Homo sapiens: one gene and its partners. The protein of the gene in region 3 purifies or fractionates together with the protein of the main gene of each other region. This does not show direct contact. Each region holds a gene or a part of one and is shown on either strand. Other genes may lie near its edges.

Region 1 (8,308 bases), on a different chromosome or scaffold from region 3:
GGGACTAGTATAAAGGTAAATTCAATTTCTCAGTCAATTTTTTTTTTTTTTTTTGAGACAGGGTCTCACTGTGTGGCCCAGGCTGGAGCCACAGTGACACAGTCACAGCTCACTGCAGCCTTGACCTCCTGGACTCAGGCGATCCTCAGACCTCAGCTCCTGGGTAGCTGGGACTTAGGCACATGCCACCACGTCTGGCTAATTTTTTGTAGACACAGGGTTTCACCATGTTGCCCTTGAACATCTAGGCTCAAGCGATCCACCTGCCTCAGCCTTCCAAAGTGCTGCGATAAATTAGGCCTGAGCCACTGTGCCATAATTTTAATTTTATAAGTCACATGTGGCTAGTGGCTACCATACTGGAGAGTGTAGTGAATTAGGAGTGGTTGCGCACATTACTGTATTGAAAGAGACCCTAATGTGTGTCTCGGCCTACCAGGAAAGCATTCTGTGATCCATCAGAGATGTCTGTTCCGGGACACAGGAGGGAAGCCTTTATTACATTTGCAGGCTTAGTTAAAGGATTTTCTCTCCTTAGGCCAAAAGAGAGCCTCTCTTTCCTAATACCTGCAATGATTCTTCAACACAAGGTTATTTTCTGCTCTTGTAAGAAATGAGATGAACTGAAAAGAACCAGATTATAACAGGAAAAATTTTAAAGAGAACTTCACCCAGGATAATGCATAACGCCCCTCTGTACTCTGGAAAGAAATACTGGTTTCTGACAGTTTTACAGAAATACAGGAAGTCAACAGGGTGTAAAACTATTGATTATTTTAAGCTATGCTGTAGGCCTTTTTTCAGTAATGCTATAGTTGTGTGCCACGGACAGGTCATTAAGATGGATGAATAAATTAAAGACAGGTTACACAGAAAGTGTAAGCCACACTATCCATTTTAAATTCAGAAAATGTAAAGCCATTGCAAAAGAAACCACCATGCCTCGGTTGAAAGTAACATATACTTCAGCAATTTAAAAATAGCACACTTCATTTTCCAAGAAAGGAACAAAACTCTAACATTTGATTGTTTCAAAATACACTGTACTGACTTCATGAAACATTATCTTGGCCTTGTAAAAATGAATCAAAAGATACCACATACAACACCTGCCATCATGAGAAAAATCAATCAGGAACCTATGTATTTTCAATTCCAGATCCCAATAGGGGTCCTATAAAGCCCTCCCAAGGAAAAACTACCTCAAACTCCCACGAAAATTGGGTTCCAAGTTGATCCTCAAAGCCTCAAGTTAAGAACCATTTGAAGTCTTCTTTGAGGTTCAATATGTTACAACCAAAATGGCACGGTTTTGGTATAAGCCCCTGTTTCTGCCCTGGGTCCTTAAGCCTGGAAAGGCTGCAGAATTATCCAAGCCCCTTCCAAACACTGAGATACCCAAAGGACAGTCAGTGCCTGAATTTGCTCTGAATTGAACCACATCAAAGTAGTTATATGTGCAATGCTCTTCCCTTAAAGAAATCACAAAATCTATCACAGTAAGATCATGAACTTCTTCTGACACATTTACTGTTTTCCAGGGATTCCACATACATAAATTCATCTTGGGATTTCATTCAAGGAGATCTATTTCATTTAAGGATCAAAAGACTTTTATAAGCTGGTCCCATTGCTTGATTCCCAAAGAGAGCATTCTAGTGAGACCCTATCTAACCAGAAAGCTGAAGTTACAGCAAAATTTTAACTATTATATATTTAGATAGAATGGATCCATTTCCAAAACAAAAAAAAAAGCTGTCATTGTTATCCATAAAACAAATGAACTGTGGTACTTTTTCTTGAATTAATACTTAACATCAAGTTAAATAATTAACACCAAGAATTCAAAAATAACCTCTTACCTCTACCACTGTGGTTTCTGCAGCTTTGCACATTGGCAAGTTGAAATTCCTTGCACTTTTCCTACAGGGGTGGAGGAGATAAGAAAGTGGGGGGGAAAAGACGAAAAATAAGCATCTCTGTCACCTTTAAGGTTTTATAGATTAGAATTTCTATGAACTAAGAATCTAAGAATCTTTCCAAAAAGAGTGTATCATATTTTCCATTAATAAAGTTTCATAAATATCTCATAAATTTTAAAAACCATAACTACTTTATTCAATGTATATAGTTTTGTTTTGAACAGGATTGAGGGAAAGAGGAACTATTTTTCACATTCAACATATAGCTACAACAAAAAAAGGAATATTAATAAATCTATCTTATTTGAAGTTAATTTCCCTTAATCTTTTAACAAGTATGCTTTGTCCCTATTAGTTAAATATTTCATTCAACCACTTGCTTTCATTAAAATATTAAGAAAGGAAAAGTAGCAAATGCTTCACATGAGAAGGTACAGTAATTACATTCTCTATTGAAGAGAAGCCTATTGCTGAAACTAAATGAAACATTCATTGATAATTTGTGAGTCAACTATAAAGATCATTCTGGAGAATCATTTTCTGATGAAGTTTTTGGAAGTATAACACCCACATCAGACCCCGAGGTGTAAAAATTTCTAGCAGGTGCCAATTTTGCCGATGGTTTTGCACTCTGATGTTCCTCAATACAGTTCCCCTAATGGTAAAAATTAAAACATATTTTTTGTCTCTGGGAATATACGTTGATGGCAGAATTTCTTTGGTAAAAGGAAGTAAGTCACAGCTATGTTTTACTAGCTCTTTTGAGCCACCAATATTTCTTTTGCTCAGATTGAAGAATGAGTACAGGAATAGGAGCATCCTTGAGAAAGGAGCCCTCGTGAACTTTCACAAGTTGCTGGGTTAGATCCCACCAGACATCCAGGCATCAAAAGCTCCAAGGGCAGAATGGTCAGAGGCAAAGGAGTCCCAAGTCCCCCACTTGAATAACCTAGACAGACTTCTGTTCCAGCTGTCCCACTAAATATGAAGTTAATCCTAAGGTCACTTGACCATTGGTGATGCAAGCTTTCATTTCACACCCGAACTCATTAACCACCAGCATAAAGTCAGTGCCCAGAATAGCCCTTGTGCAGCCTTCAAATACCAGAGCCAGGCACTGCAGCGCAGAATAAACATGGGAATATTTTCAATAATTCCTTTCTGTTTGGTAGTATACAATTTTGTTAATCTTTTTTAAAAAGCAACTAAACGTGTAAATATTACACAAACGTGTCAAATAAGGTAAAGATGATGTAAAATTACTCCTGTTATTGCCAAAATTAGTTGTACTTTAAAAAACTGGCTAAATTAAAGAAATCAAAGAGCATTAATATCACATAAGTCCTTCAGAAATAAAAAGTGATATGAGAGTATCACTGAGAACTTAACTGTAATTGCACCAAAGCTGCATTTGCTAAAGATTTAAAAATTGTTAATCGAAAGCAGCAAATGATAAATAAGCAAAAACAATGATTTCTGTAATCTGATAGGTAAAGTCTTCAAGATCAGTTTGGAAAACTCTTAAGTGTACACTCAAAGGTTTCATATTCCTCAAAAAACAACTATATAAATCTATAAATCCAAGATATAAATACTTAGTATGCTTAGAATAACCAAAAGATTTTAAAATCTATAAAGTCTGTGGCTGAGAGGATTGAAAATTCAGTATTATAAAGGTTAATCAATTTTTCAGATAGAACCTTTGTAAGCATTTCCTAGAAGACACCAAAAGGACTGAAGGACTGACCCCAATGATTATTAGCAGTATCTTTCCAGAGTATCAAATTAGCTTTGACATTTTAAGACAATACATGTAAATTACAATATCAATTAAATAAAATTGTATGATGTCACATTTTCTAAGCATGTAACTGGTCTTGGCAACTAAAATACACAAGGAGAAAAACAACTGCATGTGCCTATATAAAAGGGCATATAGATCCAAATATTTAACAAGCAGTGCAACATAGATATCGACCAGTCTAAACAGACTCCCACAAGTGGACATACCAGCAGCCCTGCACACACCTATATATGTGCAATACACATGGGCATGTATGATTTTGGGCCATTACGAAAATACATTTTTAAATTCCAAATTCACTCTGATGTCCATTTTTAGAGTTGCTGATATGCACGAGTGTTTTTAAAACTATCACAATACCTGAAAATCACGTTTCCTGCTCGGTCCGCCTTCCAGGCTTTCACCAAAGCAAAATCCCCTGTAATTGCTTCCTCCAAAATAAAGTGCTGACCATTGAACTCCCTCACCTGCAGAAGAGGGAGAAGGCATCATCAGGTATTTGCATAGGTCTTGATTGTGATAGAGGCACTCTGATAGAGGTAGATAATAAGGATACAAGCCTACTGAGGGAAAATTTCTCAGAGGGAAAAGCATCCCAGAGACTTCAAAGATAAGCAGTGTTAGGCAAGCAGGACTTAGTCAAAGTGGTCTAAGGGGAGCTAAGGAAACAGACAAGCAAAGGTCCAGTGACAAAAGAAAATTTGTGCATTTGAGGAACTGAAAGTTCTATGGCCTGAGGGATAGACTATTTTCATTTTACTATTTGTATGTACAGGTTGTATATTGAATGTGAAAAATAGTCCTTCTTTCCCTCTCCCCTGAAAAAACAGTTTGCATAAAATGGTCTATGTATTGTTTTCCTACATAAAATAGTTACAAAAATCTATCATTCAGCTATCCTCAATAACCTATATCACCTGTTGAGATTTTAAATGGGATTCACAGAATCAGTAAATTTGGAGAAAACCAACAAGCCCTATCTTCCCACCCATGAGCATAGTATATGTCTCCATTTACTGAGGTTTTCTTCGACCTCCTTCAATAGTTTTATTATTTTCTCCATAAAAGCTTTATTTTTTTTCTTAGGTTTATTTATAGGTACTTAGTGGTTTCTCTTGCTACTGTGAATGTTACATTTGCTCCTATCTACTCTTCTGACATTACTGATCTAGGGAATGCTATTGATTTTTATTTATGTTTATTGCCTTTTAATTATACTACCAATTTTGGAGGGAAGAACATAAAGCAAAACTGTCTTGCCATCATGTTCTTTTATTCTTGACGGTTTATTTCCGGGAATTAAAACAAGCATCCATTGCCACACTCCATCACTGCACAAAATGGAGCCATGTGAATGTAGAACTCCATTCTCATCCCTACCGCACCCCCTAGTGGAAAAACAGACTAAGTGCGTTTTACAAAAAGCTGCTATAGAAAATAGAAAATTTTGGTACATTTATTTCAACTATGGTTTGAAACAAAACCTTTCTTAAATAAAGGCTACTTTAAAGACATTAACCAAGTTGCCTGCTAGAAAAAAGATTAATGCACTTAGGGAATAACTGATGAATGAGGATCTTACTATAGGAACTAAGATAAATTATATGAAAGATATTTCTGAGCCACATATCAATATACAAAGTTATTTTGGAACGGCTTATGTATTTCAAAAATCACTGTAAATACCAACAATGATAGTTGAGTGTTTTACATACAGATCTAGAAAACTGGGGTAAATATATGCAAATGCAAGGCAAAGTCAATAAATAGGCTTCTTTTATATTCTAGTTACATAATTTTCTGATGTGTCTACATACCAGCTGTTGCTGAGTGTTAGTTTTACTGAAATTTAAAAATGGGGAAGGAGTTGGTTTTGTCAAACTAGCTATTATACTCACTTGAAAGAATTCTACATTTCGTAGTCACCACTTCCTCACTTTTTGGTTCTTTCTTGAATCTAATGAGATTTTCATCCCCTCTATTCCAAAAAGGAATAATTCTTAAAGTTGTCAATGACCTCTGTTTTTGCAAATCCAATGATTCAATTCCAGGCCCTGTATTACCAACCTCTTCACACTCAGTTGATCATTCCCTTCTTTTTAAAATTTCCCTTCTCTTTCAAATTGCCAGATGCCCCTGGGTTTCTTCTTTACTTACTAATCACTCTTTCCCATTTCTCTTTGCTGCTCCTTCTCTTCCCAATTTCTAAATGTCAACGAGGTGCTCTGCACTCAGCCCCTAGACACTCATCTAGTATACAGATTTAAATACTATATGCTGATGCCTCCAAAGTCTCTATCCTGGCTCTAGACTCTCCCCTGATATGACGTTCACTAAGCACCTCCTCTTGGAGTCTAATGAACGTCTCCAATGCACCATGTTCCAAACAGAGCTCTTTGATAAGGCCTGTGCTTCATTCATCTTACACAGTATGCTTGACTCCTCTTACACCCCTTACCTATCTACCAGTAAATCCTGTTGGCTCTACCATGAACATAACACCAATTTCAACCACTTCTCTCAAACTCCACTGTTACCACCTTGGTCTAGCCACCTTCCATTCCCTCCTAAATTAACACAACAGCCTCCTAAACCCTCTCTCGCTGCTTCTGCTCTTGGCTTCCTAGCAAAAAAAAAAAAAAAAGAACCACCACCCCAGCAGCCACAGTGATAGTTACAAAAGACAACTCAAATTACATCACTCTCACCCTTATTCAAAACTCCATAGGCTTCCCACTGCGTTCCGTAAAATTCAAACTTTGCATGAATTTGACTCCTGCCTCTCTTCAATCTCCATCCTTATCACTCTCTGCCTCATGTGCTGTTCCAGCCTCACCACCCTCCTGTTCCCCAAACACGGCAAGCCTGTAGCTGCCTCAGCACCTTGTACTTACTCTTCCTTCTGAACAGAGCACAAACCCTCTTATCTCCACTTGCCTCGTTCTCCTACCTTATTCAGGTCTCTACCAAGTGTCACCTCCCCAAAGAAGCTCTCCCTGGCCACCAGTCTGGAATATCAGCTGCCTGGCCAGTGATAATTAATTCTCTTTGCTGTTAATCTACTTGATTTGTCTTCACAGTACTTCCACTATAGACATTATGCATTTATTCATTCATTGTCAGTTCCTCCACTAGCAGGAGGACTTGATCTAGATCATTTTACCACAGTGCTTAGACCAGGGTTTGGCAAAGAGTAGGACCTCAATAAATAACACTAATTTAGAAATGAACTCACTTTTTCCTGCTTTAAGTAAAAAAAAAAAGTACTAAGAATTAAGAAATAAATTATCTGTCATATTCCTAGGGAATTCAGACAAAATTAAAAAACTACGAGTTTGAGGCACCTGATTCCAGGCAGAAATGAACCTAAGAAATATTTTAGTCTCATATTTTCACGAGGTGAATTAATTTTTCAACTTCTAGCAAGCTATCAAAGTATTTATCCCAAGTTTTCCGGGAACTTTATGAGATACTACTACAGTTCATTTTAACAATTAGGCTCCTGTCTTTTACTTTGTCAAGAAGCCTTTTAAACTTATTTAGACAGTAAAGGAAAAAGATCAAACATAAAAAACACATTTTTTATCTTAAAATATTTTAATGTAAAATTTATCATATAAAAATGTACAAAATATGCTTATGTAGCATTTTAAAAATATATGCAGTACTTATACATTTTTATAACACCAGCTTAAGAAATAGAACATTAATATTCAGTTTAAATCCCCCTGCATTCCCTCCCTAATTGCACTCATTTTCTGCCTTCCAATCCAGAAGTCTTCTCTTTATTTATTTATGTATGTATGTATGTATTTATTTATTTATTATTATTATACTTTAAGTTTTAGGGTACATGTGCACAATGTGCAGGTTAGTTACATATGTATACATGTGCCATGCTGGTGTGCTGCACCCACTAACTCGTCATCTAGCATTAGGGATATCTCCCAATGCTATCCCTCCCCCCTCCCCCCACCCCACAACAGTCCCCAGAGTGTGATGTTCCCCTTCCTGTGTCCATGTGTTCTCATTGTTCAATTCCCACCTATGAGTGAGAATATGCAGTGTTTGGTTTTTTGTTCTTGCGATAGTTTACTGAGAATGATGATTTCCAATTTCATCCATGTCCCTACAAAGGACATGAACTCATCATTTTTTATGGCTGCATAGTATTCCATGGTGTATATGTGCCACATTTTCTTAATCCAGTCTATCATTGTTGGACATTTGGGTTGGTTCCAAGTCTTTGCTATTGTGAATAATGCTGCAATAAACATACGTGTGCATGTGTCTTTAAAGCAGCATGATTTATAGTCCTTTGGGTAGATACCCAGTAATGGGATGGCTGGGTCAAATGGTATTTCTAGTTCTAGATCCCTGAGGAATCGCCACACTGACTTCCACAAGGGTTGAACTAGTTTATAGTCCCACCAACAGTGTAAAAGTATTCCTATTTCTCCACATCCTCTCCAGCACTTGTTGTTTCCTGACTTTTTAATGATTGCCATTCTAACTGGTGTGAGATGGTATCTCATTGTGGTTTTGATTTGCATTTCTCTGATGGCCAGTGATGGTGAGCATT
Region 2 (8,308 bases), on a different chromosome or scaffold from region 3:
AACAGGCATCCTTATATATTTCAGTTAGGACAATGAATTTGCCTACAACATCTAAAAGGGGCAGTATCAATTAAGATTACCAATATACATAGAGCTTGTTATTAAGCCTTAATTTCACTCTCAGGACTTTTCTAGGTTATTCACTGCAGGGGTATTTGTAGTAGCTAAAGATTGGTGACTGTCTAGGTAAGTTAAAATACACAGATACAGGACAAACTTCCAAGAAGGTGAAGCAGGGTGCACTTGTGTCAATAGGAAAATAGAAAAAGAAATGCACATGCAAATATTTGCTGAATACATAGACTATTTCAGGAAAGATAAGCAAGAAATTTAAAATAGTTATCTTTTCAAAAGGTAACAGAAGGATGGAGAGACTTTCCATTAAATATTGTTACTATTATTAGTATTTTAGAGACATGGTCTTACTACACTGCCAAGGCTGGAGTGCAGTCGTTATTCACAGGCATCATAGTACCACAATACAGCCTCCAATTCTTGGCCTCAAGCCATCCTCCCACATCAGCCTCTCAAGTGGCTGAAATTATAGGCATGAGCCATCACAACCAGCAAAAAGTTAAAATTGAGGGTAAGAAAGCTACTCTCATCTCAAAACCCCAAGTTAATAGTATTTTTTTAAATGCAGGATTGGGGAAAATAAACTATAATAAGGATAAACTAGAAGGGTATGAGTATAAAGGAAAGAGTAAACAAGGGAGAAAGAGACACAGAATAAAAGAGCAAATTACCGCTTCAAACATGAATTGCACTCACCTGAAGGACACAATAGTTTCCATTTTTCTTTTTGGAAAGTATTGTCAAGGCTTCTTCTTCATATCCTGGGGCAATTATACCATCAGATACCTGCAAAAATATTAAATTTTAATTTCTATTTTTAAAAATCAGAGAACACCTCTTAAAAAAATCTAGCAGCAATTATCAGTCTTAAATAATGTGGCAGCATATTCTGGTTTCTGCCTCCAACAAACAATGCTAACGCTATACTTGAAAAGAGAAATCTATTAGAATACAGCTTTCTGTATAGCAGATCCTAACTTTCTGTCCTCTCCAAGTTTTTGTTCGTTTCAGTTTAAACTAAGAAAATATGACTGATTTGCTCTTAACACATGTACCTCAGGAGGAAATATTTCTTCAGGGAGTGTTTTGAATGAGCAAGAGCACATTCTAGTCCTGACTCTCCTAGTACATGGTTAAATGACCTCTTCCGGCAAGGCGTTTTCCTTAACAGCAAGACCAGATTAAATCAGAGATTTGACATGACGAAAGATACAAATGTCACAGCCCTCCTGTAACCTGTAACCCAGGGATGGCAGTGGCCATGGAAAGAATCCTAAAGCAACAAAATAGTGCCAAGCCACATGCTCCTTCAGCCTTCACCTCTGCTTATTTTTTTCCCCTTTCTGAGCTATTTAATCTTTTTCTCTTTTCTTCCTGTCTTCCTACTACCAACAGTACCCCCACCTGTCTGGAATACCTGTTTGGTATTCAACTGATGGGGTAAGTTTATTAATGTAGTTTCTGTTTTTTACCCACTATGCAGTAAGATGGATTATATCGCATCACCACCTAAAATTACAACTTCTGCTCTTCAGAAACAGTAACTTTGGCATGAAGACAACAAAGAATTTAAAATAAATATATAAGTAAAAAACATCATAACAGCCAAATATCCATCTGAAACAATAATTCACTACATTTCAAAATTAACAATTTAAGATTAATGTTCTATTTAAAATATGAACATTAAATGATAAACTTAGCTAATTAAAAGATATTATAAATATAAATATTATAGGTTATGGTTTCAATTAACATTATGAACAAATAAAGCTTTATTCAACACACAGATTAAGATACATGAATGTCCACTAACTTCTCTGGAAATAATTTTTGCAGTTGGTACATCACAAACATCGGACAATGCAACAAAATCACCAAATGAAGACATCCTATCAGCCCCTGTAAATAAAATTAAAATGAGGTATTTATCACAAAGTATCCTGATACAGAAAAAGTAATAAAATTCTCCACTGTCATATAAAATTCATTACTCTAAAGCTAATCTTACTGTTTACATAAGATTTTAACAGATCAATAAGTCATTTAACTGAAGTAACCAGTAAGAAAGTATTCTTTAATTTTACCCTCTAGAGTGACACTCAGAAAACTTTTTCTGTGAAGGACCAATTTATATATACTATATTCACAAAAACAGGGTGGCAGGCTGGATTCAGCTGAAGTTGCTGACCACTGCTGTAGATGATAAACTATGGTAATAGTTTCTCAAGAACTTTCAGAAATACTAAAGGGATATTCATGGGTTATTAAATTCAACAAGTAAATGTCTCTGATAAAACATGACTCTAACCAAATGTAGTAAAGTTAGAAGAGCCATAAATCACGCCTGTAATCCCAGCCCTCTGGGAGGCTGAGGCAGGTGAATCACTTGAGGTCAGGAGCTCAAGACCAGCCTGGCCAACATGGTGAAACCATGTCTCTACTAAAAATACAAAAAAATTAGCCAGGTGTGGTGGCACGCACCTGTAATCCCAGCTACTCAGGACGCTGAGGCAGGAGAATCGCTTGAACCCAGGAGGTGGAGGTTGCAGTGAGCTGAGATGGCGCCACTGCACTCCAGCCTGGGCAACAGAGCAAGAAGCTGTCTCAAAAAAAAAAAAAAAAAAAAAAGAATAGCTTTTTGTAATTTCAATTTTGGTCACATATTAAACAATAACAAATGCATTCAATAGCCTAAATTAGCAAAATTACATTGACCAAATTCCAATTGTGTTTCCATTTATTACACTAAAATACTAACAAATACTTTTTTTTTTTTGAGACGGAGTATCGCTCTGTCACCCAGGCTGGAGTGCACTGGCGCTATCTTGGCTCACTGCAAGTTCCACCTGCCGGGTTCACACCATTCTCCTGCCTCAGCCTCCTGAGTACCTGGGACTACAGGTACCCCCCACCACGCCCAGCTAATTTTTTGTATTTTTAGTAGAGACGGGGTTTCACCGTGTTAGCCAGGATGGTCTCGATCTCCTGACCTCGTGATCTGCCCGCCTCAGCCTCCCAAAGTCCTGGTACTACAGGCGTGAGACATTGCGCCCGGCCTAAAATACTAACATACACTTTTATAAAGAAATGTATTTTGAGGTACTCACAGAATCAATCTCAAATATTAATAAAACAAATTAAATAGGAAATCCTATAATGAAACAAAGGGTATTTTACTTTAATCAAACTATATTATATAGAATAACTGTATATTTACATAGAGATAGAAGTCCTTAATTTCATCTATATATTATACAGAATATCTATATATTTTTTCTTTATTCTATCCTCTTTATTCTATTTAGGATAAAATATTGCTTTTTCTTTCTCCCCCAAATCAAAAAGCCCTATGAGTCTGACCTCTTGCTCTTGCATATGCCGCTGAGATGGGTGTGAGGGTTTTATAGAGATCATAAACCATGCAGACTTTGGCCTCATCTTCACTGAGTGGAATTCCAACAGCAGCACCTGGTTAGAAAATAGTAAAATCATAAACAAAGAAAGCTAAAGTTACTACCTGTCAACTCCTAAATCAAGACAGTTTTCTTAACACCCAGTCTACGCAGCACATTTTCTAGTGCCTGTGCTAAATTAAACAGAAATCTATTTAGCCAGATAATTATACACTAAAAATATGGTTGTGGGAGCAGTGTGAGGGAAATCTCCTCTCTGCCCTCCAAAACCACAGAGCCACTGAAGCCTGACAGTACCCAGCGTGTAGGTGAAGCTCGTTTACTTCATTACTGACTCACTCTTTCTCTCTGTTCTGCTTGATATCACTTTGATATCACACATCATTTATTTCTTCCCCACTCACATCACTTTAACACCCAATAAACACCTGAGAACAAATCATGTGCTGGAGGACTGTCAGCAAGATGTGGTGTACAGACAACTCAATTGCGGAGTTCATGATTTAAACACAGAAGCAAAGTATCTCATACAACGACTATAAGAAGTTTCAGATAAAGAGTCCAAAGAAGAACTTCTTTATGTTTACTCCATTACATTTTCAAAGATGTGGCACAAGACTTAGTCTATTGCATTAGGACATTTCACTTTTATTTTCTAAACTTTTATGGTTCCACCCCACAAACAAATTCCTGCCTCATTTTCCTGACAATATTACACAATTCTGTGTGTGTGTGTGTATCAGATTTTATATTATTACATTGATACTGTTATCAACAGATGACTTTCAGATTTCATAGCATGTCTATATTCACATTAGAACTTGTTAATATTCAAAAAAATTTAAGAAGAAATGCCTTTCGAACAATTCTGGAGCTTTCCAGAGCACAGAGCTTTACCTGCTGGGCTGACATGTTTGAAAGAGGCAGCGGCTGGAATACCTAAAGCCTCCTTGAGTTCCTTCACCAGCTGCCAGGCGTTCAAAGCATCGCACAAGTTTATAAATCCAGGGGCTCCATTTAGAACTAAATGTAAAAATATACATGCACATTACTAAGCAGGATCAGTAAGGTCAGATGTATGCACACTTCTCAAAAAAATAACATGACTAAACAAATGTTTTAAGTATAATTAAGAGCCAAACAGATACACACAAACATAAAATCTTGATGATAAAGAACAAAGCAACTGAGCCTGAGCCCATCTTTAAAAAAAATGCACATGTACATGAACACACACACACACACACACACACACACACACACACACACACACGACTGGAGGACCAGAACCAGCCAGTCTAGAAATAAATCCACAATAAGAGATTTAGGGATGGGAGAAACTATGACAAGACTAGTGATCAGTCAGGAATTCATGTAAATACAGAACTAAGATTAAACAATTGAGGTAATCACAGAGACAGTACAAAATTAAAGTTATAAACCCTATCGATGTAAGAAATTATATTACAAGCTAAAGCAACAGCTGTGGGTGGAAGAAGAGAAGAAATAATGTGTTTTTTCTTTCTTCTTTGATGGCAAACTCAACAGACTCTGCCTAAAGCAGAACTGTAGTTAAAAGGAGACTGCAACTTCAGAGTTTTCCATTACCTAGTTTCTCAACACTGGCAGATTTTTTTAGGAGCTAGTATCTCTTGTGAATAAACATAAGAAGTTCAGCACACAGAAAGAAATGGTGGGCCAGCACTAATTAAAAACAAAAATGAGCCGGGTACAATGGCTCACCCCCATGACCCCAGCACTTTGGGAGGCCGAGGTGGGTGGATCACAAGGTCAGGAGTTCGAGATCAGCCTGGTCAACATGGTGAAACCCCCGTCTCTACTAAAAACACAAAAATTAGCTGGGTGTGGTGGCGGGCGCATGTAATCCCAGCTACTAGGGAGGCTGAGGCAGGAGAATCGCTTGAACCTGGAAGGTGGAGGTTGTAGTGAGCCGAAACCGCGCCACTGCACTCCAGCCTGGCCAACAAGAGCGAGACTCCGTCTCAAAAAAAAAAAAAAAAAACCCAAAAAACAAAAATGTGTAATTTCATGTCCTTCATGGGTTAAGATAGTTTTTAAAGACCTTGCCAAATATTTACTGAGTTGCCTACTACGATGTTAAGCACTGTTCTAGGTATTCAGGATACATCAGTGAAAAAAACCGTCCCTGCAACCCTCTTAAAAAAAAGTCACTGTCCTTATGGAGCTTACTGGGGAGGCAAATAAAAAATAGGCAATAAATAGTATACAATAAAAGAAAATATTAGGTATTTATCAAAATGAGTTGAAAACTTGCACACAAATGATTATAGCAATTTTGTTCATAAACTACCAAAAACTGTCCTTGAAGTTTTGATGCCCTTCAATATGTCCATGGATAAACTGTGGTACATTCATACACAGTGAAATATTATTCAGCATTAAGAAATAAGCTACCAACCCACAAAAAGATGTGGAAGAAACTTAATGCATGTTGTTAACTGAAAGTGCCTAAAAGGGCTCCATACTGTATGATCCCAACTATCTGACATTCTGGAAATGGGTACAGAGTCAGTAAAAACAGCTGGGCATGGTGGTGCATGCCTGTAATCCCAGCTACTTGAGAGGCCAAGGCGGAAGGACTGCTTGAGTCCCAGGATATCAAAACCAGCTCAGACAACATAGCAAGACTCCATTCCAAAAAAAAAAAAAAGAAAAGAGAAAAAGATAACAGTGGTTGCAAAGGGTTGGGGAGAAGGGAAAGGAGGGATGAGGCGGAGGAGCACAAGGGAGTTTTAGGGCATTGAAACTATTCTGCATGATACTGTAATGGGGGAGACATGCCACTGTGCATTTTTCCAAATACACAGAATGTACAACACAAAGAATGAATGTTAAACTATGAACCTTGGTTAATAATGAATCAAAATCGGTTCATCAGTTGTAACAAATACACCACACTAATGCATGATGTTAACAGGAGAAACTGCGGGGAAGCGGGGTATATGGAAATTCCCTATAATCACCGTGTATTTTTTCTGTAAACCTGTAACTACTCTAAAAAAATAAAGCCCGTTTTAAAAAGAACTTGAAAAAATAATTCCCCCAACCAAAAATCAAGTCAAATAAAATCACTGTCCTCATGAAATTTATGCGAGAGGCACAGAAGAAAACAAACTAGGCAATAAATAGTAAACAATAGAAGTAAAATATCCCCTAAGGCATACAACAGGCATAATAAAACAAAACACCATATGTACAACTCCCCCATCTCCCTCCCACTCCTCATAGATGGTTTAGGCTAAGGTTGATAAGTGGGAGAAAACTTTTGGTTTCTGAAACATCTCATAGTTAAGCGTATCTGGATGGGTGCGGTGGCTCATGCCTGTAATCCCCAACACTTTGGGAGGCCAAGGTGGGTGGATCACCTGAGGTTGGGAGTTTCAGACTGGTCTGGCCAATATGGTGAAACTCTGTCTTTACTAAAAATACAAAAATTAGCTGGGCCTGGTGGTACATGCCTGTAATCCCAACTACTCAGGAGGCTGAGGCAGGAGATCACTTGAACCTGGGAGGCGGAGGTTGTGGTGAGCCGAGATCATGCCACTGCACTCCAGCCTGGGCGACAGAGCAAGACTCTGCCTCAAAAAAAAAAGAGTATCCGGTTCCCCTTCAAATATCAAATTTTCAAAGACATTAATAACTGAAATAGAAAGTGCCAGAGAAATGCTGAAAGTTGCTTAATCTAGTAAATAGCTGAAATAAATAGGAATTTTCTTCTTTCCAATCATAAGCAAACCAGTCATTAAAATCTCAGACACATACACACACTCACACAACCCCATCTTTGTTCTTGCTTCAATTTTGTTTTAGATACAATCGCAACCATACACTCTGTAATAACATCACTGCCAAATACTCAAACCACATGAAAAGGCAAAGTGCCTTTTCTATTGTGGAAATAAGCCCATGTTGGGGAGAAATCCTGGGAATCTCGCACAAGAAACGCTTATTTACGTGTCCAGGGCCGCCTCTGCCATGTTTACCACAAATAATACTTTAAACTTCAAAAGAAACGCACACACAGTCTAAGGAACAATGAAGGCTTTTATATAGTCCAATGAAAATGCTTTGGAAAATGAAAAGTATAAGAACTGACAGTACATGGGGATTTTTTTGTCTCAGAATCTTAATGGAGAATATAAACTATAAGCAGGAAATAGGTCAGATATAACAGCAGACAAATCAGTTTCAAGAAGTCCTACAAGGAAAAATTTGTGCAAAATGTCAGGTTGCTAATTATTCATTCAGTAAACATTTAGGGAATGTGCCAAGCAGTCTTCTAAGCCCTGGGGATTCAGCGACAAACAAAAACAGATGCAGCTTCTGCTCTCAAAAGCTGACATCCTGGCTGGGCGCTGTGGCTCATGCCTGTAATCCCAGCACTTTGGGAGGCCGAGGCAGGCAGATCACCTGAGGTCAGGAGTTCAAAACCAGCCTGGCCAACGTGGTGAAACCCTATCTCTACTAAAAATACAAAATTAGCCAGGTGTGGTGGCAGGCGCCTGTAGTCCCAGCTACTTGAGAGGCCGAGGCAGGAGAATCACTTCAACCCGGGAGGTGGAGTTTGCAGCGAGCCAAGATCGCACCACTGCACTCCAGCCTGGGCGAAAAGAGTGAAACTCTATCTCAAAAAAAAAAAAAAAAGGAAGCTGCCATCCTAATGGGGGAAGACAATTTGAACAGATTGAATAGAAACACATGCAGCAAAACAGGGTGATGGGATGAAAGCATGATGGGCTGCTACTTTGGTCTAAGCGGTCAAGGAAGGCTTCTCT
Region 3 (9,210 bases):
TACTATACACTTTTTAGGAAACTGAAACCAAAATACAAAGTGTAATTTTAAAAAATCTCAGTTTTAAATTAGTGGGGGAAAAAAGAATGAGTATTGAAATAAAAATATTTACAAACTGTAGAACCCTAGTAAAAATCTGTAAATACCCAGCAAGAGTGAAAAGACAATCATTTAGTTCTGCCAAATAAAAATCCAAAATAACTATTCACAATAGCAAAGACATGAAATCAACCCAAATGTCCATCAATAAAGGATAAAGAAAAAGTTGTATATATCCACCATGGAATATTATGCAACCATAAAAAAGAATGAGATCATGTCCTTTGCAGAGATATGGATGGAGCTAGAAGCTGTGACCCTCAGCATACTAACAGAGGAACAGAAAACCAAACCCGCATGTTCTCACTTGTAAGTGGGAGCTGAACAATGAGAACATATGGACACAAGGAGGGGAACAAAGCACACAGGGGCCTGTGGGCGGAGGGGGAGCAGCAGAAAAAATAGCTAATGCCGGGTTTTAATATCTAGGTGATGGGTTGAGAGGTGCAGCAAACCACCATGGCACACATTTACCTATGCAACAAAACTGCATATCCTGCATGTGTATCCCGGAACTTAAAATTAAATTAATTTTTTTTTTTTTGAGACGGAGTCTCACTCTGTCGCCAGGCTGGAGTGCAGTGGTGCGATCTCAGCTCACTGCAACCTCCGCCTCCCGGGTTCAAGCAATTCTCCTGTCTCAGCCTCCAGAGTAATTGGGACTACAGGCGCGCGCCACCGTGCCCGGCTAATTTTTGTATTTTTAGTAGAGACAGAGTTTCACCATGTTGGCCAGGATGGTCTCGATCTCTTGACCTCGTGATCTGCCCACCTTGGCCTCCCAAAGTTCTGGGATTACAGGCATAAGCCACCGTGCCCGGCCTTAAATTTTAAAAAATCCAAAATATTCAAAGCGATGGCTCAAAATAATAGCATGCTAAAACTTCAAAAAGTTCTTTAACATTTTAGTGAAAGAGAACCTCTTATTACTCACGAAGCCATCTTTTCTAATAACTTTACATTTTAACTCTGAAAAATATTTATAAAGTAAAGTGACTCATGAATACAGCCTACTTCATCCAAAATAGCCAACATTTCCACAAATGCCACTTACTGGCATGCGTTCTGTCACACCTCCAATCTTAAAGTTCATCGTAGATCTCACGGTCTGGGCGCCATAATACTTATCATTTGGCACCTTTAGTTCACCAAAGGTATCATATTCTATCCGGAAGGAATTTTGGCTTGCCTAAAGACAAGAATACAACACTATTACAAGTTGAAAAGAAACCCAGGATCAAAAGTAATCGCATCTTATCAGCTGTTAAAGAGAAAGAAACCTGAATAAGTATCACAAAGACAAAAAAATACTATTTGGATTCTCATTCTCTTCCTCACTTTCAGGTCTTTCCTTGAGAGCTCTTTGTCACACAAACTTATTAATTCAGGCTTTAAAGACAGACTGTAGAACTAATATACTATGCTGGTGATAAACATAAAGACTTTGAAATACAAATAGTAATCTTTTCCATTTCAAGAGTATGCTTATTACTGGTCAAGATTTGGCCAATTCAATGTACTTAGTTTAATGCTTATTTTACTGGGAACTTTTGAAAACGGTCTAAGAATGATTATTTGAAATTTATAAACATTATTTATATATAAACATTATTCACATATATTACATATGTATATTCATTTATATAAGAAATGTATAAACATTATTTACATATATAAACACTATATATATGCCATCATGCTACCAAGTCAGTATCACAGTTGGTCTGCCTGTTAAATATTCTCATTCTCAATGCACTTTTTAATGCATTTTTAATAATCAATGATCACACTAATTATTCATGTGTGATTTATTTGCTTATTTAACTGCTTTGCTTATTTAATCTCCACTAAAGACAAGAATAAAACACTGCCTGTAAAACCCTATCCCCATAGGGACTGTCTTATTTACAGGGCCTGGTAAGTGGAAGGCACTCAATAAACAGTATCTTTCTATTGAATGAATTTGTATGTGTTCTTTTAAATAAAAGGTACCTTAGGGCATCAAGGGTTATGTGAAATTCTCAACATTAGCAACAGGAAGAACTTTTAACAAAACCAACAGAGATTTTGGACCTGAGAATGGTTAGAGGGCAAAAAGTACCAGAACTAGAAAAAACAAAAACTACCTCCATCTGATTTTAGCTAACATTACAATTCTAAGAGCAAAGTAGTGCTGCTATTTTTTGACATTTGCATCAACAGGATAGATTCAGAAGTTCTCCAGTCTGCTTCCCTTTACAAAACACTAAATAAACAATAAATAAATTTAAAAATATGTAAAGGTTTTAAAATGCCCTAAAATTATTCGAGCAGGGAGTTCGAGGAATACAAAACATCTCTGATTCTGTAGTATAGTTGTATATCGTAGGTATAGTGACCCAATCAAATTATCTTGAAGTTTAGAGTCCAGAAAAAGTACTGGCCCTTTGAAATACCCTAGATGGGGCACTTATTTAATGAGCACTCGCTACATGGTATTTTCACATGTGCAGTTTTGCTGAGTAGCTGTAAGTATTTCAACTTTGCATACGGATTTGAAATCACATCTCTTAGATTGCAAACCTCATGCTACACCAGTGCAGAACTGTAACTCTTCAACTATCATTTCTCAAACGTTTCCTAACAATATACATATGTATTTAAAGCTTTTTAAAAGCCTGCATTCCTAAAGATGACACTCTAAAGAGCAAAATGACTTACGTAAGCATGTCATAACCTGAACTTGGATCTTTAAGTTCTTAGCTGGCTTTCTGAATAAAAAGTACCGATTCAGCTCCTAGCCAATCTGCTCAAACATGCTTCAGAACACTATGCCCGCGGTATTCGGAATTGAAGAGTTTTACAACAATTACGGGGGAAACCATAGTCAGCCTAACAAACTGAGCATGCAATTTCAAAGGAAGTAAAATCTTCGAAGAACCTTCTACCCCACCTGGAGGGCCTGAAAGCAGTGCAGTGCCCCTTGGCGAAACAAACCACAGTTCAGAAACCACTAGATGCACAGGCGGCCAGTGTCCGGCCAGCAAGGCCCAGCTATGGGGCAGGACGGTGCGGGAGCTGCCCCTCTCCCAGCACCCTCCGCCCACGCCGGCACTGTCCTTGAGGGCAGCGCCCCGGGGCTGGGGGCCTGCGCGCCAGCAGCAGCGAAGTTACCTCAAAACGCCCCGGCCTCGGCCCGCCACGGACGGCTCCGAGGAGGCGCCGGGAGCGGGCCCAGTAGGACCCTCTCTGACAGCCCCCGTCCCTCCCCAAGCGCTCTCCCGGGCTGCGGCTCCATCCCTGCGCCGGAAGAGGCGTCCCGAGGCCGGGAGGCCCGCCACGCCGGCACGGGCGCTAAGCCCAGAGTCTGGCGCGGCCCGGACGCCCGGGGAATCTCTCCCGCCAAGTCGCGGGCGCCCAGGCCGGCAGGCAGGAGGGCTGAAGGTCACTGCGGGGAGGCCGGGGGATGGCGGCCTGCGCTCACCATTCGAGCCGCGTTCGGAGGCCAAAACGAGGGCACGGCCGCGCCACCCAAGCCGGGAGCCGAAGCTAAGGCTGCGGCTGGAGCCCGCACGAGGGGACGCGAGCGCGCGAGGAGCCGAAGTGCTCGGTACATGGTGCTGAGGGAGCTTGGGTAGAATTTCTGGGCGGCTGTGGCCACGCCTCCACGCCGGTTGTCAGAAACCGTTCCGCCCACCGGCCTCCGCTCTTATCCAATCAACAGCCTCACACCGACAGGTGGGGCAGGACCAATCGTGAATGACCAGTAAAGAATGAGGGGGCGGGTTAACTTTCTAGTAGTAGTGTGGGGTGTAAGGCCTTCGGATTCATGGGAAACTAGAAAGAAGGGAATTATGGGAAAGGAGGCTCAGGTTATTCTTGGAGCCGGTCTGATTTTTACGTGTGGCTGTTAGAAGGCGGGAGTATTAGTTGGTGAATCAGGTCGTGTTTGGTTGGTGAAATATCCTAGAAAGAAATATTTATTGTTTTATTTATCATGTAATCACTCATTACACGTTCTTACTACTGAAATCTTTCTTCATTTCTTCCAGATTGTATCTTCTGTGTAGAAATTTTGGGAAGTGCAGCAAAGTGTAGATAATGAAATAGTAATTATTCATAATCCCACAACTGAAAAATAAGCTACTTACTTATTTCTTTTAACTTATCATTTTGAGATCGCTACCGTTTCCTTTCTCTTCTTAGCCTATACCCTCAGAACTCTTTTTTTTTTTTTAATGTATTGTGGAAGACGTACACAATTATAGGGAACCTCGGAATTTTTATTATTTGTATATCGTTCTCCCAGTTTTTTGCATAGCTAATTTATACATTTTCAAATTAAAGGCATATTGTTTTAATATAATAGTTGATTACAGAAAAGCAGGAATTGATATAAAATTGCATCTGAACCACAGTTTTATCTTTTCTCTTTTCTATTGCTTGGAACCAGATGACAGTAAAGAGAGAGCGATCGGATGTTCTTAAAATCAAAAGTCCAGAACCTGCAAAGCCAAATTTATGAGTCAAACTTACAAACTTGCCAAACCTTTTGGTAACATTATGTTATTTTGTGACTTATAAATTTGACACATATTTAAAATATAAAAATTCAAATGAGATTGTAATAGTTGAACTACAATCAAAACACACTAGAAAACTGAATGCAAATTCTTTAAAACATTGCTAATAATGGAATGACGTTTTGTTTTTGTTCTCCTCCTTCCCAGCAGGTATCATTATTGTGTATATCATTATTTTGATGCATCCTTTCAGTTCTGTGTATTTTTTGCTTCATACACTAATATACAAACAATGGTTTTAATATTTTACTTTAAAGTTTTACTGTTGCATAATTGAACTCTATGCTTTTAAGATATAGCCATGATCTTTTAAAATTAATCATATTGGATCACATGAATATGAAATATTTTATTTATCCAGTTTCTTAATAAAGAACATTTTTCTTTGCTATTACACAAAATTATTTAATGAACATATGTTTATCATTTCTTCATAGATCATCTCTTTCTTCATTGTGTGGTGCCCCTCTTTATTGTTATTGTTGCTTGTCCTTTTAAACTTTTTTTAATATTGATATTTCTCTACCAATTTCATATTGGCTATTATTTGCCTGCTGTATATTTCTCATTTTATTTTATTTTTTGTTTCATTTTTGTTTCGAGCATGTCTCTTATTTCTACCATACAGTTTAACTTTTCAAAACCCAAATTAATAGCCTTTTTATAAATAGGTTATTTTAATCCCTTTTAAAAATTACCTATGACACATATTATGTTCTAGAATTTTTCAAAGCACTTTATATGTATTAATTCTTGGAACACTCAAAAACAACCCTATGAGATAGGTCCTATTATTATTCCTGTACATAGAAGAGAAAAATTGATGCCCAGGAACATCCACATATTTATTTGTGTGTTTTACTTCGATTTATTAGTGAAACTGATTTTCTATCTGCAGTAGTAATATGAAGTTCCATTTTTAATTATTCATTTTATTTGAAGTAAAATATTCAGTATAATATGAAGATGCTATATAAATGACTAAAATTTAGGAAATATTAACTTAGCTAATTTATTTTTATTAATTCGTAATAAAACGTACATAAAGCCTTTAATAAAGGCTAGATATCTTCATTTTAGAATGACTTATGTTATCTATTTGAAATAATGTTTTTACTTTGCTTAGAGTTTGGGTTTTTTTTTTTTAACTTTGGACTTGTCTGATAATAATATTGACCTGCTTTCTTCTTGTTGATGCTTGCCTGGTTTGTTCTTGTTTGTTTTACTTTGCTTTCTGTTTAAGGTAGGGGATGTGATTGGTGTCCTGCTGAGGGACAAGGGAAAAGTGCAATGGTTTTCTCTTGCCTGTGTTCTAAATCTCAACACCTGGCTGACAAAATTGATTGCGAGGTTCAAATTGTATCAATCAAAATGTTCTCCTTATTCAAACTAAAGACTTTTGCAAATTCTAATTTAGGATACCTCCCAGCCTGGGAGATTACCAGTGGGTTTCCTAGAGGAAGCTTAACAGAAAATTTGCAAGATACACCCATAAAAGTCTCCCAGAAAGTAGAGCAAATATTCAAAGAGAAGGAAAATAAAAGAAGTAAATAAAATTAGAGAAACAGTTCAGTATGTCCAACATGTGAATAATGTAGGGGAAACATTAGGAAAAAATGGAATAAACCTTAAAAAAATAAATTCAGAAAAATATATTGTAGAACTAGCAGATATGAACTAGCCAGAATGAGTTATGTCAACAAGAAATGTTAGAATACCAAGGGCAAAGAGAAGAGACTGGAATCTTTCAGAGAGAAAAATAAATAAGCAAAGGATTAGAAATCCTTAGACTTCACAACAACAATATCGGAAGCCAGACAGCAGTTGAATGATGTCTTCAAATTGTTAACGGAAAATTATTTCCAACTTTATATTCTATACCCAGAGAAATCAAGTGTGTGAAGAGAATTAAAATGTTTTCACATGATCAAGATGTCAAAAAATTTACTTCTTATCTACACTTTTCAAGAAAACGCCTCAAGTAAGTGCTCCACCGTAACTAGGAGTAAACAAAGGAAGAGGAAATTATGGACTTAGAAAATAGGGTCTTCGACACAAGAGACAGATGTGGCATATTGCCTGGAGGAGGCTATGACAGCTGTGCACTTACCTTAGAGAGCAACCATCTCAGATGGAAGCAGGTCACAGCCTCTGGAATAGATTTACTCAAAAAGATAAAATTGCTAATGCCTTGAATATACTGAGAAGGAATTTAGCTGATTGGGGGAGAGTTTGAGGGTTACATTTATAAGTCTTAGAAAAGTAACCAAAGGGAAAAAGCATGACAGTTATTAAACTGACAAATAAAGATAGTTGTATTTTGCAGAAAAGGGAAAATAATCATTATCAAATTTGAATGGCCATAGTTATAATAAATCAAACGTTGAATATTGATCTAACTGAAATGTTGATGTAACTATACTGAAAGGATGGGGAGATGGAAAGAATGTAGAAGTTTGGAGAGATTCAGACACGGTGAAAAAAAAAACATTAATCTTCGTCTTCAGTAGTGAGAAGTCATGATCTAATACCTAAAACCATAAACTGGACAGACAGAAATAAAAACCAAGAGGTAATCTTTAGAGATGTGGAAGTATATACCCAGGAACTGGAAGGGATGCCTCTGTGCAAGGATAAGTGGCGGAGAGGTAGCAAGGGTGATGACTGTTTAGGTTGGATGTCTTGCAGAACTTTTTTATTCCTAAGACTAAGTGCACGTACAGAAACTTTGCAAAACACTAAAATTACCAACTCAGAAAGTTAACCAACCTCTCTCTCCATTCTCCAGAAAAACTTCAATTCCTCAATGTGCTGGATTCCATTACCCCTCAGAGACACTACCCACTCTTTTTCTTACTTTGTCTGGTTATTTCTCTTAATTGACCCATAGAATAAGTTAATACTGTAACTTTGCTGTCTCAGCTCTCATGTTAAAAACAAACAAAAGCTGCTCTGACTTTGCATCCCACTTCAACTCCCTCCTCATTTCCAGGACATATTTGATCACCATCTTCACTTCACTTCTCATTCTTTCTTCATCCTATTACAATCTGCCTTCAGTACATGTCACTCCATTCATACTGCCCTTTCCAGGGTCACCAGTGACCTGCAAGGTGCAAATACAATGAACAATTAGTTTCCTATGTTTGCAGCAGCATTGACACAATTGACACCCCTTCTCCTTGGAAATACCTCTTTCTCGCTCTTTGAAATATCAAAGTCTCCGTATTTCCCTCTCCCAAACTTCCACTTTGTTTCACTACCTATTCCTTCACACTGTTCTTTGACAGATTTTCACTTATAAATAGGGAAGGGCCTCAGGGCTCACTCCTAAATAGTCTTTCCTCTTTAATTCATTTTTAAAAATATAGTGGGACCTCAGGTACAGAGTGTTGAGTAAATACACTGACCTTATGACATGTTATGGAGTATAAGATCCATTCTTATTTTATTTAAATATTTCATTTCTATTCCTATTTTCTATTCATATTTTTACTCTCTTTTTTGATTTCAATAGTTTTGGGGAAACAGGTGGCTTTTGACTACATGGATAAGTTTTTTAGTGGTGATTTCTGAGATTTTGTTGCACCCATCACCTAAGCAGTGTACACTGTACCCAATGTTTAAGTTTTTCATCCTTCACCCCCTCCCATCCTTCCCCCTGAGTCCCCAAAGTCCATTATATGGTTCTTATGACTTTGAGTCCTCATAGCTTAGCTTCACTTAGCTTCTTATTCTCCTATACCCTTTCTCCTTTCAAACCCCTAGAAAACTATTATAATGTGTTTATTTTGTATCCTTTTGTTTAGATGTATTCTTGTAAAATTTGTACAGTTGTTTTGTGCAGTTTAAATTTTTATGTAAATGTTATTGAATTATGCATGCTATTCCCTTTCTTAACTATCTTCTCAATCAGTTATCTTTCCATAGGTGAAATCTTCATTCCCATGATTTTCAGTACCATCTTTATGTTGATATACTGATGGTGCCAAACTTATTTTTCCAACCTAGGTTTCTCCAAGCTCCAGATTTACATTTCCAACTGTGTGCTTAGTATCTCTATCTAACTCAATACTCACATCTCAAACTTAATATACCTAAATGATAAATCTTAGTTGGCACCCCGCCCTAGTCTTTCATGCTCAGTAAACTACTACCAGTTAGTCAAGCTAGAAACCTGCAAGTCTTCCTTGATTCCTGAACTCTGCCTCCATTTCCCAAACATATGCGTACACTATGCCAAATTTACCAGCAGATCCTGGTCATTTAACACAAACTTATATCTTGAATCCATTCACTTTCCTCTCTTTTTACTTTCACCAATATATATTTGTTTAATAAAACAAGTAAACTAATAAGCCTGGTAGTTTCCTAGAATAGTGAACACAATAAAGGAAACAAGATGTTTAGAGAATGATTGAGAGGTTGCTTCTTTTAGATAAGGTGATCAAGCTAAGGATATTGTATCTGAGCTGAGAACTAAGCAATGAGAGCCAGCTATACAATGATAGAAGAGTATTCTAGGCAGACAGCTGCAAGTACAAAGGGC

The links. Proteins that work in one complex are often made in the same cells at the same time.
Region 1: the proteins of FH (region 3) and OXCT1 fractionate together in Homo sapiens (co-fractionation; 2 studies listed by BioGRID). This does not show direct contact.
Region 2: the proteins of FH (region 3) and ATIC fractionate together in Homo sapiens (co-fractionation; 2 studies listed by BioGRID). This does not show direct contact.

What each region holds. Positions count from the first base shown.
Region 1 is NC_000005.10:41,838,589-41,846,896, forward strand, and holds part of OXCT1 (succinyl-CoA:3-ketoacid coenzyme A transferase 1, mitochondrial isoform 3 precursor), read right to left. Parts: intron 5,070-8,308; exon of another isoform or gene 4,993-5,069; coding exon of another isoform or gene 4,987-4,992; intron 4,194-4,986; coding exon 4,087-4,193; intron 1,924-4,086; coding exon 1,863-1,923; intron 1-1,862. UniProt on the Homo sapiens protein: Key enzyme for ketone body catabolism.
Region 2 is NC_000002.12:215,328,588-215,336,895, reverse strand, and holds part of ATIC (bifunctional purine biosynthesis protein ATIC), read right to left. Parts: intron 4,515-8,308; coding exon 4,389-4,514; intron 3,547-4,388; coding exon 3,439-3,546; intron 1,978-3,438; coding exon 1,892-1,977; intron 862-1,891; coding exon 772-861; intron 1-771. UniProt on the Homo sapiens protein: Bifunctional enzyme that catalyzes the last two steps of purine biosynthesis.
Region 3 is NC_000001.11:241,516,029-241,525,238, forward strand, and holds the start of FH (fumarate hydratase, mitochondrial), read right to left. Parts: upstream 3,728-9,210; 5' UTR 3,695-3,727; coding exon 3,563-3,694; intron 1,289-3,562; coding exon 1,154-1,288; intron 1-1,153. UniProt on the Homo sapiens protein: Catalyzes the reversible stereospecific interconversion of fumarate to L-malate. Experiments in other species have demonstrated that specific isoforms of this protein act in defined pathways and favor one direction over the other.